3 linked regions of the Homo sapiens genome follow. The protein of the gene in region 2 purifies or fractionates together with the protein of the main gene of each other region. This does not show direct contact. Each region holds a gene or a part of one and is shown on either strand. Other genes may lie near its edges.

Evidence for each region.
Region 1: the proteins of MPP2 (region 2) and GID4 purify together in Homo sapiens (affinity purification with mass spectrometry; 2 studies listed by BioGRID and IntAct, with this or other methods). This does not show direct contact.
Region 3: the proteins of MPP2 (region 2) and ABLIM1 purify together in Homo sapiens (co-immunoprecipitation; 2 studies listed by BioGRID and IntAct, with this or other methods). This does not show direct contact.

What each region holds. Positions count from the first base shown.
Region 1 is NC_000017.11:18,063,350-18,068,960, reverse strand, and holds the end of GID4 (glucose-induced degradation protein 4 homolog), read right to left. Parts: intron 3,782-5,611; coding exon 3,718-3,781; 3' UTR 556-3,717; downstream 1-555.
Region 2 is NC_000017.11:43,897,441-43,904,553, forward strand, and holds part of MPP2 (MAGUK p55 subfamily member 2), read right to left. Parts: intron 7,054-7,113; coding exon of another isoform or gene 7,021-7,053; coding exon 6,990-7,020; intron 4,125-6,989; exon of another isoform or gene 3,844-4,124; intron 3,185-3,843; exon of another isoform or gene 3,113-3,184; coding exon of another isoform or gene 3,031-3,112; intron 941-3,030; coding exon 822-940; intron 1-821. UniProt on the Homo sapiens protein: Postsynaptic MAGUK scaffold protein that links CADM1 cell adhesion molecules to core components of the postsynaptic density. In CA1 pyramidal neurons, required for synaptic KCNN2-containing channel function and long-term potentiation expression.
Region 3 is NC_000010.11:114,648,209-114,655,321, forward strand, and holds part of ABLIM1 (actin-binding LIM protein 1), read right to left. Parts: intron 1-7,113. UniProt on the Homo sapiens protein: May act as scaffold protein. May play a role in the development of the retina. Has been suggested to play a role in axon guidance.

The sequences.
Region 1 (5,611 bases), about 26 Mb from region 2:
ATCTCCCATGTTTCCAGTCATGTTCCTTCAAGCCTCCTAGGGAGGTGGGACCTGAAACGTAACAGAATGGTTTGTCAGAATAAACTGTAATGGCTGATTTAGGGATCCTGCTATTTGGGGGTCCAAGTGCCTGTGCTTTGAGACTTAGGCATCTTCTCTGAGGACCACAGTCACAGTGTCGAGAGCAGCCCAACAGCATTGCCTGTCCCCACACCAGAACACAAAGCAGGCTTTGGACAGATACCTCTGCCTGCACATTTTCTCTGTGTTAAATAGAAATATAAACCCTTCACATATGGAAAAAAAAAATGCTTCCACATTTCTGAAGAAATACAGAAATTAACAAAATGGAGCTTGAATAGAAGTGCTGAGCAGCTGAAAACATTCAGAATGAAAAAGGAGCAAGCAGACCACTGCAACAGTTGCCCAGAGGGGCCCTCGGTTTGCCCTGGCACACAGAGGTCTCCGGCTGGCCCTGGAGAGCTCCACAGCCACAGGCCCAGAGAGGACTGCTTTCCTCTAATGGAGCTGCTTTGGTTTACAAATAGGACAAACTCACTGCTTAAATACCTTTATTTTTTTTTTTAAATTATTTGGACATTGATAGCTCTGCAAAATACTTCTCCCATCCCAAACCCTCAAACTCCTTCCACATGTCCTCCATAAAGAAACAAAATATTTATACTTTGTGCCCATTCAAGTCTAATTTTTAAAAACATTTAAGATTCAAAATCAAATATTATTTTTCTTTCCCACAACTTGTTAGTAATTTTAAACCACGATACAACACAGTTAATGGCATTTCTTTTTAAAAATTAGCTTATCAGACTATTTTATGAGAAAAAAATCAATTCAAGGCCTTAGTGAGAATATTATATTCTCTGTTTCTGAAAGCAAAAGACATTGAAAAACCCCTTTGCTCCTCTGGAGTTTGTGATTTCCACATAACCAACAAAACCAGCACACAGATTGACTTCCTACTTAACAGTAGGTATTGTTTTGTTACTTTGGGACAGCAGCTGAAACACTATCTAAACTTGAAAAGGGTGGGTGGGTGGAAGTCCAGCACAGAAGAGGGTCGAGGCTGAGGACAGCAGAATGGAAGCTTTCTGAGCAGTGGAGTAAGAACAGCCAAACCCCTAGGATCCTACCTCATGGCAGGCTTGTTTGGGATGGAAGACAGAACATCTGCAATCTGCACTAATTTCTTAAGGATGGATACAAGTGTCAACCAAAAATATTGCACATAGTTTCAGAGGCATGTAAACCACTGAGAAGGTTCAGGAAAGCGTAACTACGGATGAAGATGATTCCCCAAAGTTCCTTCAGGAACGGAGAGAAAGAAGTTGATGTTGGTAATTCAGGAGTTACTAAGAGGAGGTGGAAAAATCCTTAATCCTTTCCCTATCCTCAGTGGGCAGACTTTTAAATGAACAAATCTTCTCATAGATGTGTCTGAAGGATCTAGTAAAGGTATCACCTCTTCATTCTTCCCAGTACAATGGGTGCACTTCATCACCTGGGTAAAAAAGGAAGGAAGGAAGAAATCCTGCCATAGGACTTGGGTTGTTTGTCTAGAACACAGCAGTGTTTGCAAATGGCCCTTCCTGCCCACTCAAACCACTACTCGGAGCCACAGCATGAGCCGTGGATGAGCTCAGGGATGACCTCCGGACTCAGTGCTCCAAGGGGAGGCCTATATCCCTCACAGGCCTGGAAAAATGCAGAAGGTATGGGCTCGCATGCTGTTGAGGGGAGAGCTGAAGAGAGTGGAATGGCACGTACGGCAGGAAGGACAGCACAGCCCCATGGCCTCCTTCACTTGTCCATCAGCTCAACCAAGGCCATCAGCTCAACAAGACCACAGTGAGCATCTCCTCACATGACAGCAGCTGGGCTTGACCACAGCCAGCCCTTCTGATGCCTTGTTGAATTTCAGGATTGAGGAGACTGTTCTGACTCATCTCTGGGAATGAATTATTTTTCCCTTTAAGTCATCGGGCCAACTTTTTAGGGTTCCAAAGCCCTGACCTTCCTGAATGGGTAGGTTGCCCCTCTGTACACAGTCCTGGGATAACAGATTTTAGATATCACAAGTGCCCACTGGCTACTTTCCCAAATACCTCTACCTTAAGGCTTCCCCTAACATTCAATCTCAGTAACATACAGTACATATGTCAATAAAATTAAAGTCACTTCTTAAGAACAGAAAAGGTTTCCCATTGCTCGTCTCGTCTCACTGAAGGGCTTCACATTCTCTTATGCTGCCCGCCCATGGATATGCAGCCTCCAGGTTGCTTTGCTCCTGGGGGTTATGATGCAATCTTGTTTTTAAAGCTTTTCCTCTTGTATTCGGAGTAAGTCTTGTAAACCACCAGAAAAATGCCAAATCCCCAAAGCCCTAGCCATGTTTGTGGGCTACAACTGATGCCAACCTATTAAGCTTTTAAAACATTTAAAAAAACAAAACATCATACACACACACACACACACACACACACACACACACTTTGGCACGTGAGCCTCGAGTTATTTGAGCATGTTCATGTTTCCCACCCCTTCCCCTGTCCCAACATTTCAGAGTCACTGTTTTCAGAGAACGACGACCCCTTCTGCCTCATGGAAGGCTGCCGCCAAGCATTGCTGTTTTGAGTAGCAAAAGGAGGCGGCACAAATGCTAAACTGGCCCCAAAAACAGTTCTTGTGTTGAGCACTATAATTTAGGCAATGCTGCAAAACTTTTGTACCAGGATGACTAGTTTCAAAACTGCTGGTTGATTAAATATACATATACATATAGATATCGATATAAAAATTACTAAGTCAACATTTGCTGTTTTCAATGTGAAAACGATAAAATGTAATTCTGAATAATTGTGCATTTGCCATAGGGTCCTCGTTAAAGGGACCATAAAAATAATTTTGTAATAAAAAAACTCTTATTTTTAAGTTTAGTATTGCCCTCAAGTTGAAAAGTTTGGAGCAAATGTACTGAGTAAGCAGGACTGGAATCTGTTCCTGCCAGGGATCTGGAAGCCTTAAATTTAGTGATCCCTGATGGCAGGCCCAGGGAACCTGACAGCTACTCACTAGCTTTGCACTGTTAACAGTACAGGGCTCAGCAGCGCACGCTGACCCGTGACACAATCAGCACTGAAGACTGAGGCAGCCCAGCAGGGACTGGAGCCTCCGCCTCTTGTGCCCTTGGTGGCCGATGATGCGGCAGCTGGCCAACTCCCTGCACAGAGCTCTGGGGGGCACAGAGGTGCTGGGGCTCTGCCTTCTCTTGAGCTACCAGACAAAGCAACTGGCGGGGGGTGGGGGTCTAGGGCCTCGGGACCACTGAGCACCAAGGCTGAGGGTGATCCGGGAGCAGACCTTCTATTCGGCTGGAGGTGGGACGGAGGAAGGAATGGGCATTTCAGTGATGTAGAAGTTAGCTGTGCAGGAAGGAAAAGTGCGTTTAAGGTAGCTTAAAAACAGGTGAAGACCAAACTGCCACTGAGGGGAGGAAGAACGAAGACTGCTCCCTCCACCTGCCCCACGGGCCAGCCATGCTCCTTGGATTCTGTGGGTTAACATTCATGCTTTGTGATGCGAGTCTGCTCGTGAAGAAACAGGAACACACTTCTCCTGGTTCTGGCAGGTACACAATTTTCTCGGCAAAGTTCTTTTTTGCCAAGTTCAGTTTTATTTGGTTGCTGTTCTGAACCGTTGTCACCGGAATTCATAGATGGGTGCACTGTGTTCAGGAACATGGGTTAGATTGAGGGACTGATACCTGCAAGGGGGAGGAGACAGAAACGGGAGGTAGTCATCTAATGCACCCTGAGCAAAGGACATTAGTAACCCCTCAAAAAGCAGAGCACCCAACAAGTCACATACTTGGACTGAAATGCACATTCATTTTCTATTTCTCAAGTTGAACCTAGTTTGATTTCATTCATTCTTTCTTTTTTTGGTTAATCCTCCTGAACCATGCACTAGATGAATGTTTTTTTTCATTCTGCTCTAATCATGAAGTTAACTATGGTATGTTTTATAAAAAGGAGACCTCAATAAGCTGTGGGAGAAGATGGAGACCCACGCCCAAGCCCTAACCTCACCGGCTGCTCTGACCTCTCCTGCTGTAGCATGTAATGCCAGGCTCTCATATCCTAAGAACTTTATGGCTAGCATAGGCATAAACTGATTCTCATGGTATCTAAAGAGAGCGTAGAAAAATTCATTTCACTACTGCCTTAAACTGTATTTTACCTTTCATTTAAATTTTCTCACTTTCCTAGGTACGGTATTAGGCTTGGAAAACATTAGTGATATCTGAGGTGTTTGCCTCCCCTGTTGGCAGGTGATCCAGGGAGTCATGCAGAGGGAGGAGAAATAGGGGCAGACAATCTACATGCTGGGATGACAACCTCGGGCACATTTAGAGTCAATGTCTAGCAAGTTGGCTCTCCCCTACTTGTTTCATACAGGAGTGTGGAAGAACGTAGGAAAAAGCGGCTTATTTCTTACCAAAAACAAATTATCAGGAAAGAAATATGCATTAGCCATCAAAAATATGCAAATTAGAACTACAATGAAATACTGCTTCACATCCACTAGGGTAGCTATAATTATAGAGACATGATAACAAGTGCCAGGGAGGATGTGGAGAAACTGGAACCCTCATACATGCCGGTAGGAATGCAAAATGGTGCAGCTGCTGTGGGAAACAGTTTGGCAGTTCCTCATAAAGTTAAATATAGCAATACCGTATGACCTAGCAATTTCACTCCTAGGTATATGTCCAAGGAATTGAAAGCAGGAACTCAGATATACCCATGTTCACAGCAGCATTATTCACAAGAGCTAAACAATGGAAGCAATCTAAGTGTCCACTAAATAATGAATGGATAAATAAAATGTGGTATATACCGGCCGGGCACGGTGGCTCACACCTATAATCCCAGCACTTTGGGAGGCCGAGGCGGGTGGAACACCTGAGGTCAGGAGTTCGAGACAGGCCTGGCCAACATGGCAAAACCCCGTCTCTACTAAAAATACAAAACTTAGCCAGACGTGGTGGCAGGCGCCTGTAATCCTAGCTACTCGGGAGGCTGAGGCAGGAGAATTGCTTGAACCTGGGAGGCGGAGGTTGCAGTGAGCCGAGATCGTGCCACTGAACTCCAGCCTGGGGGACAAGAGCGAGACTTTGTTTCAAAAAAAAAGTTGTATATACCTGTAATGGAAAATTAATTGGCAATAAAAAAGAAGTTCTGATACATGGTACAACATGAATGAACCTTCAAAGCATTATGCTAAGTGAAAAAAGCCAGAAGCAAGGGCCGTATTTTGTAGATTCCATTTATATAAAATACCCAGAATAGGCAAATCTATACATACATAAGAGAAAGACTAGTGGTTGCCCAGGGCTCAGAGGGGATGAGGAGTTTGGGATAATGGCTAAGGGTATGGGGTTTCCTCTTATGGTGATGAAAATGTTCTAAACTTGATAGTTAGACAACTCTATTAATATAGGAAAGATCACTGACTTGTACACTTTTTTTTTGAGATGCAGTCTCACTCTGTCGCCCAGGCTGGAGTGCAGTGGTGCAATCTCGGCCCACCG
Region 2 (7,113 bases):
ATTGCACTCCAGCCTGGGCAACAAGAGCAAAACTCCTTCTCAAAACAAAACAAAACAAAAAAAACCATAAAGCCTCCCTGATACTCACAGAAGGATGCCCAAGCACCCACATACAGCCCCCAGTGCCCTCCAGACCTGCCAACCTTTGCACAGCTCGCATTGTCTTACACTTGAGGCTCAGCCTCACACCAGCCCTTCCAATCCCCTGCACACTCCTGACTCTTTCTTACCTCTGTGCTTCTGCTCAAGCTCTTCTGTGGCCCAGAATGCCCTCCCCCTCTTCCTCATTCTTCCACTCAGCTCAAGTGGTCCTTCCTCCAGGAAGCCCTCCTCACCCACCCCAGGCTGGGTTAGACACCTGTCCTTTATGCTCCCAAAATGCATAGTGTATCCACCTCTATCACTGTCATTACCAAATTGTCCTATAATTTTCTCTTTTAGTCAATCTCTCCCCAACCTGATACATGGCAGGTGACCTTAGAAAGACATACACACAAAACGCCCAAAGGCAGAAGGACAGGCAAGATGAATTCTAGAGATTCTCCAACATGTGCATGCTAGCCCGCACCAATCACACACTCCACAAGCTGGCAGTCAACAAACATCCACCCACGCACTCACCAGACAGGTGTGGGGGCAGCCCCCTCTACCTGCAGCCACTCAGGTCATCACCTGGGCATGATTTTCTTCTACAATCCCCTTCAGGGGGGCCTCTTGTGCCACATGTCCCATTCCCAAAGCCCTCTGTAGCTAATACCCCATCCCCTACTGTGCCTCCCCAAGCACAGTGCCCTTGTGCCCACCTCCCTGGAGCACTGTACCTTGGCCAGGGATCTTACTATGGGACTTTCCATAATGCCTCGAAGGAAGATCAGGTCCAGCTCTGCAGCCCCCGTGGCACTGGGGAGGGATCCCAAGTTGTCCAGGACTTGCTGCATGGCTGGGGGAAGGTACGGGCAGTGAGATACACAGGTACCAGCTGGGTACAGAAGACCAAAACACACCACAATACTTGCCACTTCCCCACCCCCATGTCCCACAGAAGGCAGCCCCTCCCCGGCAACATTCCCCTCCCTGCCCAGCACAGGCACCCCAGGCCCTTGAATGCCTGGGACAGGGATCCTGGAGGAAGGGGACAATTTCCTTGGCCTGTTCTCTCCACCCTAGGTAATGCCAGCCTGAGCAGGTGGGAGGCTCCAGGCAGCTGGAAGAGACTCTGAGGTGGAGAGAAGGGAGAAAGGGAAGCAGGTGTCAGGTTGCAGATCCTGCCCTGCACCAGAAAACCACAAGCTGTTGGGTGGATCACTTGAGGCCAGGAGTTCAAGACCAGCCTGGGCAACAAGGCAAAACCCCATCTCTACTAAAAATACCAAAATTAGCCAGGCATAGTGGTGTAGGTCTGTAATTCTAGCTACTCAGGAGGCTGAGGCAGGAGAACTGCTTGAACCTGTGAGGCAGAGATTGCAGTGAGCTGAGATCACGCCACTGCACTCCAGCCTGGGTGGCAGAGCAAGACTGTCTCTGGCCGGGCGCGGTGGCTCACGCCTGTAATCCCAGCACTTTGGGAGGCCGAAGCGGGTGGATTGCCTGAGGTCAAGAGTTCAAGACCAGCCTGGCCAACACAGGGAAACCCTGTCTCTACTAAAAATACAAAAAATTAGCTGGGCGTAGTGGCAGGCGCCTGTAATCCCAGCTACTCGGGAGGCTGAGGCAGGAAAATCGCTTGAACCCAGGAGGCGGAGGTTGCAGTAAGCTGAGATCCTGCCATTGCCCTCCATCCTGGGCGACAGAGCAAGACTCCGTCTCAAAAAAAAAAAAAAGAAAAAGAAAAGAAAACCACAAGCTCCTCACTCAACCTCTAGATGGGCTGAAGCCCAGGGCTCAGCCACCTGTACCTGGCAGGCTCAAGGATGAGACAGACAGTACTCGGAGCAAGTCCGTGAGTACAGGCCCAGAGTCAAGCAGGCAGCCACACAGGAGCCAGGGCCTGCAGCCTCCAGTCTAAGCACCACTAATTCAGTGTGACATTGTACAAGTCACTGTCCCTCACTGGCCTCAGTCTTTCCTGCCTGTAAAATGGATGGATTGGGCTAGATGATGTTTACAGGCCTTCAGCTCTGAGTGACAATGATCTATAATCACTGAGAAATTAACATGGATGATAGGAAGTCAAAGCTGAGGCCTGGAACGCTGGCAGGAGCTAGGGAAACAGGCACTGGAGGCCTTGGTGTGACCCAAAGGCTGAGGTCACACCAAGTCATCACAGGGATAAGCAAACTCTCAGCCCGAAATGGGACATAATGGAGGACACGATAACACCTGCAGCTGGGCCGCAACAATGCCCCCGAGACCTGAGGTGAGGGCTGCCTTCACTCACTGACAGAGGTGGGAGTTCCAGGCTGTGGCAAGTTCCGGGGAAAGGAAGCGAGAAGCAGAATGTGCCCAGCTGGGGGCAGAGATGGGCGAAGGGTATCATTACTCTGCCACCATGCCGCCCATGCCTACATCTGCATAACAGTACCCAAGCCACGGAGGACGGCGGAGGATGCACCCCTGGCGCCTCTCAATGCTCTTGTCAGTGCCCCCCTCCTCCAGGAAGGAACAGGAGTGGGGAGGAGGGGGCACTGGAACTGGAGCTGGCAGAGATGGTTCAGGGACTCCTGGACTCCCATCTCCTTCCTCCTCCTGCTCCCTGCCTTCTCCAGAAAAAAAAGTGCAAGCTTGCCCTTCAGACCCCTCTTGCCCAGGCCGGGGCTTGGCATTGGTCAGAGACCTGCGAGGCCCTCAGTGGGCTCTGAAAGAGGCCAGGGCAGGGACCCTTCCCTTCCTGCCAGGGTATGCCAGATTCCCTCCGTTATCTAGGGGAGGACTGAGCCAAGGGAGTTGGTGCCCTCTGCCCAGGACAGCTCTCCTGAAGGTGCCCTCAGATGACCTCTCCCAGGCCACCCTCCCCAGATGCCCCGACTCTGCTGGAGGAAGGTAGGCTAAGGGGCCAGCTGCCCCGCCCCCATCTGGCCCGCCCTTCCCTACCTTCCCTCTGGAGCTCCGCTTCCTCAGAAGACTCCAGGGATATACCCTCCAAGGAGACCCCGCTGCCTGGGCTGCCTGCCATGGCGGCCCCCAGACCCGGGGACTCCCGGAGCGTCCTACACGCCGCCGTCTACCGCCTCCCCAGCCAAAGCCTGGCCGGGCTGGGGAAGGCGGGAGTCGAGGAGCGCCCTCTGAGGAACCAGCCAATGGGAAGGCTCAGCCGCCGTGACCGCCTTGCTGATTGGCTAAAGCCCTGACTGGCGCTGCGCGGTGCAGAGCAGGCGGTAACCCGGGTGGGAGAAGAGTGGTGGGAGGGAGCCCTAGTCCCACAGATTGCCCGATCCCCAGCATGTCAGTGTCGGTGGGGATGGGGAGGAGGCGGCTAACAGGAAGTTTTGAGGAGGGGGTAGGCATGCTGCCCCTTCAAGACTGGCGCGGTACTCCGAGACCCTCCCCTCACAGCCAGCTTCAGGAGACCCGAGGGAGAAAAGTCTTGGCCCATCTTGTCCCTGTACCCTCTTTTCTAGAAGCCCCTCCTCTAATACACCCCATGCCACCTCCTCCCTATGCCCTCTGACCTCTGCTCTCAGTCCCCTCTCCAGGCCCTGTTTCCTTTACAATAGTCCCTCAGTCTAAGGAAGTCCCCAAGAACGACTCAGCCCTCCACCGGGAGGCAGCCTCACTTGGGCATGGGGCAAATACCTCAAGCCTCAGACGCCTCCCCCTACCCACCCTTGGTCAGCCACTGGGAGGCAGGGTACGTGGGGGAGGTGGCATCGCTGTGGGTAGGGATGGTGCCCCAGCCCTGCTTACCCCTCGCCTCACAGCAGCTTCTTCCCCTCCCCCATCTCCCATGAGTTCTTCCTCTTAATGAAGGGGATGATGCCCAGGAAGCAAGTCAGGCATCTTGGAACTCAGTTCCCCAGAAAGGAAAAATGAGGGCACATTTGCACACAGGGAAAAGTGTGGGCAGAAGGGAAGGACTCAGCTCCGCTCCGGTGACCCCATTCCTCTGAGATCTTGTGCCCAAGAGGCCACCATCAGGGTACTGCAGCCTCCACTCAGACATTCCCTGAGGAGTGGCACCAGGTCGCATTGCACCCCTGGTTGCCATGACAGTAGAATTACACACCAGGACAGTAACCCAGGGATGGAGGAGAGATTTAAAGGGACAGCTCCACCTGAAAGCAGCCACATATCCCAGCCTTGATCCAAAAAAGGGAGGGAATCTGGTGACAGGGGAAGAGGGAGCAAGGCTGCAGGTCAGGAGATGCCAGGTTCAGGATCTCTAAGTTCTCAGCCCAGTGCCACTGTCCATTTATCTCCCAAGTCTCAGGAAAAGGGCCCCTGACTCTACCCAAAGTAGATATGGGGTCTCCCTGCAAGAGGAATACACCCATACCCTTTCCCTCCCTTCAACCATACTGACCCATGGGGAAGGGCGGAAAAAGGATCTTATTAGCTTTGCCCTTTGCAGAGTCCAAGGCAGGGATCTCCCAGGGGAGGAGGAGGGAAGGGGAGCCTGAACTCAGAGGCAGGGACACAGCTGTCTCTCTATCCTGTGGGAAGTATAATGACCACCAGATAATAAGGGGCAGAATCCACCATTAGATTTTTGAAGCTGGGAGCTAATGTAGCTCAGGATAGGACAGAGGCTGCCTGAAGGAAGAAAAACACTTTGTACTTCTTCCTTTGAATATGAGAAGCCAGGAGCAGCCCCTCGAACAACATGAAGGGGAGCAGGAGCCCCAGGAGTCCTTTGAGGAAGCAGAACCCACCGCCACACCCCAAGGCTCCACTCCCTGTCCCCCATCCTCCCCCACCACGCCCCCATCAAGTGGTCTGCAACAACGAAGCCAAATTGCTGGGCTTGCTCCTCCTCCTACGCCCCAGTCAGGCACTATTGGTGGGTTTACTGGGCAGTCCCGGCTGGAGAGGCCATTAAGCACAGGCTCAGGGGTGGGTTTAATTAATGCCTAAGCAGCTTACAGTGGGGCCTAGGCAGGCTGAAAGAGGCAGGGAGACCCCAGGGAGCCCAGCAGGCTGGACAGGAGATGGGGGACTGAGCCCTCTGATGCTGCAGAAGCTGGGGACATTGGTGCCATCCCTCCACTGCAAGGAGAAGAGGCCTTTCCTGGACAAGTGTACCACAGTTTAGGCCCTGGCTCACTCCCTTCACTTTCTCGGAGAGGAGGCACAGAGGAATCATTCTACCCAAAGTGGCAGCCCTGGAACCTCTGGCAGAGGCAGTAGTGGGGCCTAGAGCAAGGGAAGGAGCTGCATGGGAGGGAGGCATCCAGGCAGGGGGAAGTTCAGACAACTCAGAGCAGAACCATAGCAGTTCCCAGCTGCCCGGGCCTCAGAGGGCCTCTAGCACAGGGAACTTAACCTTCTGGGGTCCTGCGTGCACTACGGGAATCCATGATCCCCTAGAGTAGAATATACCTTTTGTGCATGGATGTATATGTCTACGATGAGGGCTCACTGCTGTCACCAGATTCTAAGTGACTCAGGACCAATAAAATTAAGAACAGGCCAGGTGTGGTGGCTCATGCCTGTAATCCCAGCACTTTGGGAGGCCAAGGCAGGTGGATCACCTGAGGTCAGGACAGCCTGGCCAACATGGTGAAACCCAGTCTCTACAAAAATACAAAAATTAGCTGGGCATGATAGCAGGTGCCTGTAATCCCAGCTACTTGGGAGGCTGAGGCAGGAGAATCACTTGAACCTGGGAGGTGAAGGTTGCAGTGAGCCGAGATCCCACCACTGCCCTCCAGCCTGGGCAACAGAGGGAGACTCCATCTCAAAAAAAAAAAAAAAGAAAAAGAAAAAAGTTAAGAACACTGATCTTGTCCCATCATCTCATCTTAGGGAAATCTCAGGTCTTCAAAAGGAGGTGACTGTTTCAAGGACACAGGGTTAATGCCAAAATAACAACTCAGGCCAGGCACAGTGGTTCACACCTGTAATCCCAGTAGTTTGGGAGGTCGAGGCGGGTGGAGTACTTGAGCTCAGGAGTTTGAGACCAGCATGGGCAACATTTTTGTCTTTACGAAAAATACAAAAATTAGCTGGGCATGGTGGTGCACACCTGTAGTCCCAGCTACTTGGGAGGCTGAGGTGGGAGAATGACTTGAGGCTGGTAGGCAGAGGTTGCAGTGAGCCAAGCTTGCGCCACTGCACTCCAGCCTAGGCTAAAGAGCCAGAACTTGTCTCAAAAACAACAACAACAACTTGGTGGCAGCGGCAGCAACAGCAGCATAATAATTATGACTATTCCTAAAAGTAATGTGCTCTCCCATTACAGCCTTTGCGTCTCACAGCAGCCTCTTTACAGAAGAAGAAATGCGAGCTCCAAGAGGTTAAGCAGTTTGCCACTGAGGCTTTGCTAGTTTGTCTGAGTGGCCCACTCCCTTGTCCTAATGCCTCCTACAGAGCCACGTCCAGGTATCCTAACCTGGTATTCTTGTTCCTTCACTCACAGCTTCCTGGTCCCCAGTACCCCCTGTCCACCTCTGGCACATGCTGGCCTAGTGGGCAGCGATTATGGACTTCTCAGCCCCAGGCTGTGCTGCTGTAATCCCTCCACCCCCAAGCCATTCTCCAAGGCCCAGCTCCGGGGCCACCTCCTGAAGGCCTGGTCCTATGCCACTGCCCTCCAGCAATAGTACGGGTCACCTCTGGAGCATGCATCCCCTGCCCTCCACGGAGGTGAGTTGTGCTCCAGCCCTACACTGGAGCAGGTATGGGTCTTATTCTTTCTCTTCTCCGTTCCAGCACAGGAACCCACACAGAGGAGATGGCCACAGCAGCTGCCAGAAGGAATGGCTGAGTGGTAGGGTGGACAGCAGTGGAGCCAGTTGGTTCTTATCTGGAGCTGTGCAAGTGCCCACCCCTAAGTCCTCGCCTGGCACCCTCTGAACCACTGAAATAAGCTAACATCCTCACCCCCTTCTTACCAGTTTCAGAGTTGGTGGCGGCAACCGGCATGGTGAAGGAGGCAAGGGCTCTGAAACGTCTCTCCTGGAGAGGGGAGAGAGGAGGATGAGCAGATACAAGGGCAAAGCAATGGGGAAGGGAATA
Region 3 (7,113 bases), on a different chromosome or scaffold from region 2:
CACACAAAAACATGTAACAAGTGTTCATAGCAGCATTATTCATAATAGCCAGAAAGCAGGAACAACACAAATGACCATCGGCTGACGAAAAGATAAAGAAAATGTGATATATCCCTACAATGGGATACTATTCAGCCATAAGAAGGAATACGGTATTGATAAATGCTACCGCCTCGATGAGCCTTAAAAACATTATACTAAGTAAAAGAAGCTAGACACAAAAATCACAGGTTACATGATTCCAATCAGATGAAATGTCTGGAATAGGAAAACCCACAAACACCTAAAGGAGATAAGTCGTTGCCAGCAGCTGAGGAATGTGAGTCATCAGGGATGTTTTCTAACGGGCACAAGGTTTCTTTCTGGGCTGATAAAAATGCTCTGGAATTAGATAGTGGGATGGTTGCACAACTTCGTGGTTCTACTAAAATGCACAGGCTCGTAAATGTTAAAGTGGTGAATGTTATGGTGTACTACATTACATCTCCATTTTAAAATGTATGAAGTACCTTTACTTACCAAGCACTGCGTTATAGTCTGAAGAAACCACGGAAACAACTGTCCTGCCACTAAGGCACTTACTACCTGGTAGGGAGACACGCAAACAAACAGATACAAATAGCCAAGCATAGAGGTGCTTGGATGGGCATTTGTGTGGTACACAGCAGAGCCCAAAAGAGGAGAGGTCTGGAGAGACTCCACAGGAAAGTTTCACCCGAGCTGAATCTCCAACTGAACTTAAAAAAAAAAATTAATAATCCTTTGGTCTTCTCATGTAATATCAAACAGGGAGAGAGGAGAGCTAGGGTCTTAATCTAACACTACCCTCTGATTATACCATAGACCTTAGGAAAGTCATTTACTTCTCTGGACCTCAGTCTCTTACTTCCTACAAAAGTAAGGTGTTGGCTGGGCACGGTGGCTCACACCTATAACCCCAGTGCTTTGGGAGGCCGAGGCGGGCAGGTCATTTGAGGTCAGGAGTTCAAGACCAGCTTTGGCCAACATGGTGAAACCCCATCTCTACTAAAAATACAAAAATATTAGCCAGGCATGGTGGTGCATGCCTGTAATCCTAGCCACCCAGAAGGCGGAGGCACAGAGAATCGCTGGAACCCGGGAGGCAGAGGCTGCAGTGAGCCAAGATCACACCAGTGTGCTCCAGCCTGGGTGACAGAGCAAGACTCTGTCAAAATAAATAAATAAATAAATAAATAAATAAATAAATAAATAAATAAATAAATAAAGGTGTTGATATCAAAGGTTTATTTCTACCTTTGAGAAATATCTAGAATCCTCGTGCATATCATATCATAGTCTATCTAAAATCCTGACATACTTAAATCCTGATTCTGCAAAGGGTTTCTCTAGTGTATTCTGGGTGTGCTGCTTTCTGAGATTGAGAAAGGAATCTTCCTGCTGGCTACCTCTACACGCCCTAACAAACAGCACACAGACTATGCTTCCTTCCTGTTGGCAGCCTTCATCTTCCACCCCAGGGACAGAATCACCCATCTGCTGACCACGTATTCACCTTATATTACCTTCCTACTGGTAGCCTTCGTCTTGTAGTCCATAGACAAATCAAGCCTGTGCTGGCCACCTGTCCACCCCAATGAGTAACACACAATCCATATCCCCCCTCTTTTTTTTCTTTTTTTTTTTGAGACAAAGTCTCACTTTGTTGTCCAGGCTGGAGTGCAGTAGTGCTATCTCGGCTCACTGCAACCTCTGCCTCCCAGGTTCAAGCAATTTCCCAGCCTCAGCCTCCTGAGTAGCTGGGACTACAGGCGCCCACCACCATGCCAGGCTAATTTTTGTATTTTTTAGTAGAGACGGGGTTTCACTATGTTGGCCAGGCTGGTCTCGACCTCCTGACCTCGTGATTCACCCATCTCGGCCTCCCAAAGTGCTGGGATTACAGGCGTGAGCCACTGTGCCCAGCCTCCACACAATCCATATTCCCTTTCTGTTAGCAGCTTTGTCTTGTACCCATGGCCGTCACAGGTCCATGGCTGATTTGCCAAGTTAACAGGAGTCCATCCATAATAATCAGCACTGGGTCATGCCCCAGAATCATTAGGATCAAAGGATGGGAAATCAGGGATTTCTTTGAAAGTAAGCCACTCTTAGTAAGATTCAAATTTGTTTAAAGCCTGGATTAAAACAATGCCAAACAATAAACTTAAACAGACTGCTTTACCCTCTGACTTTAAATAAGATTAGTTTTTAAGTACATTTAATTAAAACGAATGGGGCATTGCAGCATATTTACTCACTCAAGGAAGTAATTTACATGGGAACATTTCATGTGAAAATAGTTACTTGCCCACATTCCTAGGACTAAAAATAAAATAAACAAAACAAAAAGCAACCATCAATAAAACAAAAAAAAAGCTGGACCAAGTAGATTCAGCCAGTGGAACTAGGTGAAAAGTGTCTTACTTCTACCTTTTTCTTTCCACTCTCAGATCATTGGGCTATTTTCCTTTTACTCGTATTTTGGGTAAATCATATCTATTTTACAGCTCAAATCGCAAATCCTACTTTCTCTTTCCCTTCAGTGATATTTCTTTCCTTTGAAAACTAATTGTATTTGTTATCTAGACAATTATTCAACTTCTCACACATTTGGGTGAGAAGAAGAGGGGGAAGTATTTATCGAGCTCCAACTAAATGCCAGCATTTCTAAAATACGTATTTTCTCTTAGGGCTCATAATACCGCTGCAATGTGGGTAGTATTATCCACATTTTATATACGAGAAAACTAAGGCTCGGACATATTAAGTCACTTGCCCAGGTCACAGAACTGCAAAGAGCAGAGCTGGACTTTGAACTTGGCAGCGAGGTCTGACCCCATAACCCTGAATTTGCAACCAGTTTGCTTTGCAGCTTCTCCTGGCCTCAGCTACTTGAAGGCAGGGGGACAATTTAATGCCGAATTGTATTCTTCGAACATAGTGATTTGATTTCTGCGAACATTCACTCATTCATTTACTCATCACTCACAGCTTTTTTTCCATGCCAGGTACTATAATGGAATAAAAATAAGAGCACAGCTCTCTCCTTGCCCTCAGAGAGGACCTCAGTGTATGAAAAGGGAGAAGCTTATAAACAGGCAACTTGAACAAAGATGTGCAGAGGATGCTATGAAAACACAGAGGAGGACGAGGCAAGAGGTAAGATCAGGCCGGCCCAGAGGAGGAAAAGCTTAACCTGCAGCCTGCTGGGCCTCAGAGAAACTGGGGAGACTGTGCCAGGCAGCAGAATTGCACATACAAAGAGAGGCCCAACGTGAAAGCATCCTTCAAACATCTGTGACAAAGAAGACTGATGCGGGTGTTTGGGGGTTAAGAGTGGGACGTGATAGAAAGGCTTAACCGTCAAGAGCTTGAAACGTATGATTCTGGGAAATATGATTAAACTAATGGAATGAGAAGCCTAGGGAATTGAAAAGGGGTTATTGGTAACTATAAATAAAAAAAAAATGCAAACTATCTAATGCTTTCCCAAATAGCTGAAACCTCAAATCCCTCTCCATTCATGCCCTTGCAAGATGTAGAAGTAACTGGCCACCACCTATCATCTCCATCCTCAGGAGAACAAAAGTTAAAGTAAGACTGCTGTTTGGGGGGAACCATATCCCATCAACAAACCGGATGAGGCCCTGGGGACCCAGCATGCTGGAGGAACAGGAGGCCACAACACAGTGTGTCTCCTTGCCAGCAGCAGATGCCGGTCACTACTTTGCCTCTCAAAGTAGCCTAGTCAAAGCCATCAGTCAGGAGAGCGGGTCTGAGGGCAGGAACCACATGCTGGTCCTTCTTACCAACTTTCCCAGGATGTATTTTTTATGGCTAGCTCAAACACTTCTCTCAAATGTAATAGAGGGCCTTCACAGCTGAGTTTCAGGGTTTGGAGAGAATTAAAACCTTTTCCCTGACACAGACTCTCAATGTTACCAGGAAGATGCTATAGAAAAGCTCCACAGCATCTTGAAGAATATGCTGTCTTTTTGACAACAAAGCCATTTGTGGCCTATGGCCTACTATACCCAAGACGCTTCCCCTAGCCCTCTGACATACAGGTCTGGGGTTGCGGATTAGTGAATGGGGTAAGAAGGGCACACTAAAAGAAAAATATTATAGTGTTATATGTTCTACTTAGTTTGAAAACAGGTTGGTATTGCTTTAAGAAACAATAATGTACCCAAGAGGTTCTCTCACTTACGTGATACCCTGAGTATCTGGGTCTTGGGAAACCATTCCGAGTGAAGACAACACCTGGTGTGCTGCATGTAACAGAAAGGTCTCAGCAGGTGCCTGAATCAGACATGAACCACCTTTCTCTCTTCTGGGATATGAACTGCTTTTCCAGGGAGGGGACTGCCAAGTCTACTTTGGTCCCTGCTCTCCAGTCCAGAACATTCTGCTTTGGGATTTGGACTCAGCTGACAACATAATCACTGAATCCTCTCCAGATATCCTTGGGGCTTTTGATAATAGTGCCAGTCTCTTGTTTGTTTGTCAAGAAGGTAATCGCCCTAAATATGTTCTTTCGTTTGTATGAGACCCAAAAGCTCCAAAGGACAGAAAGAAACACAGGTTCAAAAACTTCACTCTAATTTCCTACAGGAGAGTAAGGGAACATTCCATACAGACAGCTTGTATTTACGAGCTAGAGGAAGGAAATCTTTGCTAATTTTCCTGGCAACAGCAATATACTTTATGGGAGTCTTCAAATTTGAGTTGCTGAAGTACGTAATTAGCAATATTATTTACAAACTTTAGGTGTGCCAGTGTTCAGCGTACCTCATGAATGACCCACTCTTATGCTCCTCAGGCTGAGGCAGAGTGACATCATGGTTGAGACCACGAACCTGGGTGTCAGGCAGACCTAAGCCCAAATCTAGTACTTATGTGACCTTTGGCAGGTCTCTTAACTGCATATGCCCCAGTTTCCTTCTCTGTAAAATGAGATAAAAGTAATTCCTGCTTTGTTGAGTCATTGAGAATATCAAACATGGAAAAATCATGAAACACTTGGCACAGGCGAGGTATGGTGGCTTGCGCCTGTAATCTCAACACTTTGGGAAGCCAAAGCAGGAGGACTGTTGGAGGTCAGGAGTTTTAAACCAGCCTGGGCAACAAAGTGAGACCCTGTCTCTAAAAAAAAAATCAAAGAATTAGCCAGGCCTGGTAGCATGCGCCTGTGGTTCCAGCTACATGGGAGGCTGAGGCAAGAAGATCACTTGAGCTCAAGAGGTGAAGGCTGAAGTGAGCCCTGTTCTCACCACTGCACTCCAGCCTCAGAGACAGAGGGAGGCCCTGTCTCAGAAACAAAACCAAACAAAAAAAGACACTTATCACAATGTTTGAGATATAGTAGGCCCTCAATGAATGACAGCCGTTCTTCAAGAACAGTACTACATCTACAGTCAGAAGCTGCAGAGGCTGTTTCGTACGTTTACTGATCTATTTCATTGATATATGCTCACTGATATATTTTTGCAGAAGCTATTTTGTATATTCACAGATCTATTTCACTGATATATGCCCACTGATATATTTTTGCGGAAGCTATTTTGTATGTTCACTGATATATTTGTTTTGCCCACTTTTCCCATCTTCTTGCTAACTCATTGCTGTTGTTAAGTGGGGGAAAACAATTTCTTCCCTTGCAACATCCAAGGGTTGTTTTGAGCTTTACAAAGGACACATATGCATGGGGACACTTGGAAAATCATGGAGTCCAGCACAACTCAAAGCAGGGATTGAGCACCAGACAATAACAGGAAGCTGCAGCATCGTGAGATCTTTCTGGCAGCTGGAGGAGGCCTTTGCCAAATATTCCCAAGCACCCTGCCAGGAGCTGCTCCTGAACACTCTGGGGCTTCGTAGCACAGGAACATGCATGGCTGCAGGAGGGCGCACTTCCTCCAAGCACCTGTCCTAAACAGGATGCTCTGAACACACAGTGGCTTTCTGGGAATCCCACGTCCTGTGCAGCATCTATAGTTCTGGGCCTCTATTGTTTCACAGCATGGAAGGCAAACAATAGAAATTATTTTTAACAATAATAAACAATTTTTTCTTATTTTATTATTTTAATTCAGCCTCCATAGAGACTGTCAAAAATGACTAATGCTGACTATATTGCAATTCTATTATTATTACTGAAATTAACATTTAGTGGATGCTTTTGTGTGCCACTATACCAAACACTTTGATATGCACGTTCTCATTCTTTAAATTTATTTTTATCTTTTTTTACAATTTTTAAAATTGAGATAGGGTCTTGCAAGTTTGCCCAGGCTGGTCTTGAACTCCTAGGCCCAAGTGATCCTCCTGCCTCAGCCTCTCAAGTAGCTGGTACTATAGGCCCACACCACCATGCCCAGCCAGGTTCTCATTTAGTTCTCATAATCAATACTGCCCTTAGACACACGCAAGCAGGGCCCCTGCCCTAACCCCATTCCTTCCTCAAAAATGTCTAAGTGCGCTCTGGTACCTGGGATCGCTGGGGCCAGCAGTGCTGTCTGGATGGGGAATCTGAGCCTCCTCTTCACAGATCTCTCTAGTGATCCTCTGCATCTCTCCCATACTGTGCAAGGGGTTGGCCAGATGCCCCAAGGAGCCCCAGGAGTCATGCCAATGGGTTTCTTGGGGCCCTGGAGCTGGCTCCATTCTAGGGGACAAGCCTAGCAAGCAATCACTTCCTCAGGCTGGTGTGGCATTTCTTTCCCAAGACTGAAACAGATTGAGCTGTTGACACACTGCTTTGGGTGACTCAAATTGTTTATATAGACAGGAGCCCTACAAAAAAAATCTGCCCAGGGCCCCATCTACTCTAGGGATAGGCCTGCTCAAAGCAATCCTATAAGGTATGCATTCCCTGCCTACCTTAGGGACAGAGAAACGCACTTGGAATCACTAACTTCCCAAAGTAACACATTTAGTGAGTAGAAGAGCTGGGAGTCAAATTCTGGAATGTCCAACCTCAAAGCCACACTTAACTAATCTCCCAGATTTCCTTATCTGCCTCCACTAAGATATGGATATCCCAATGATGATTACCTTTCCTGTATCCAGAACTCTCTCGGATACTGTTAA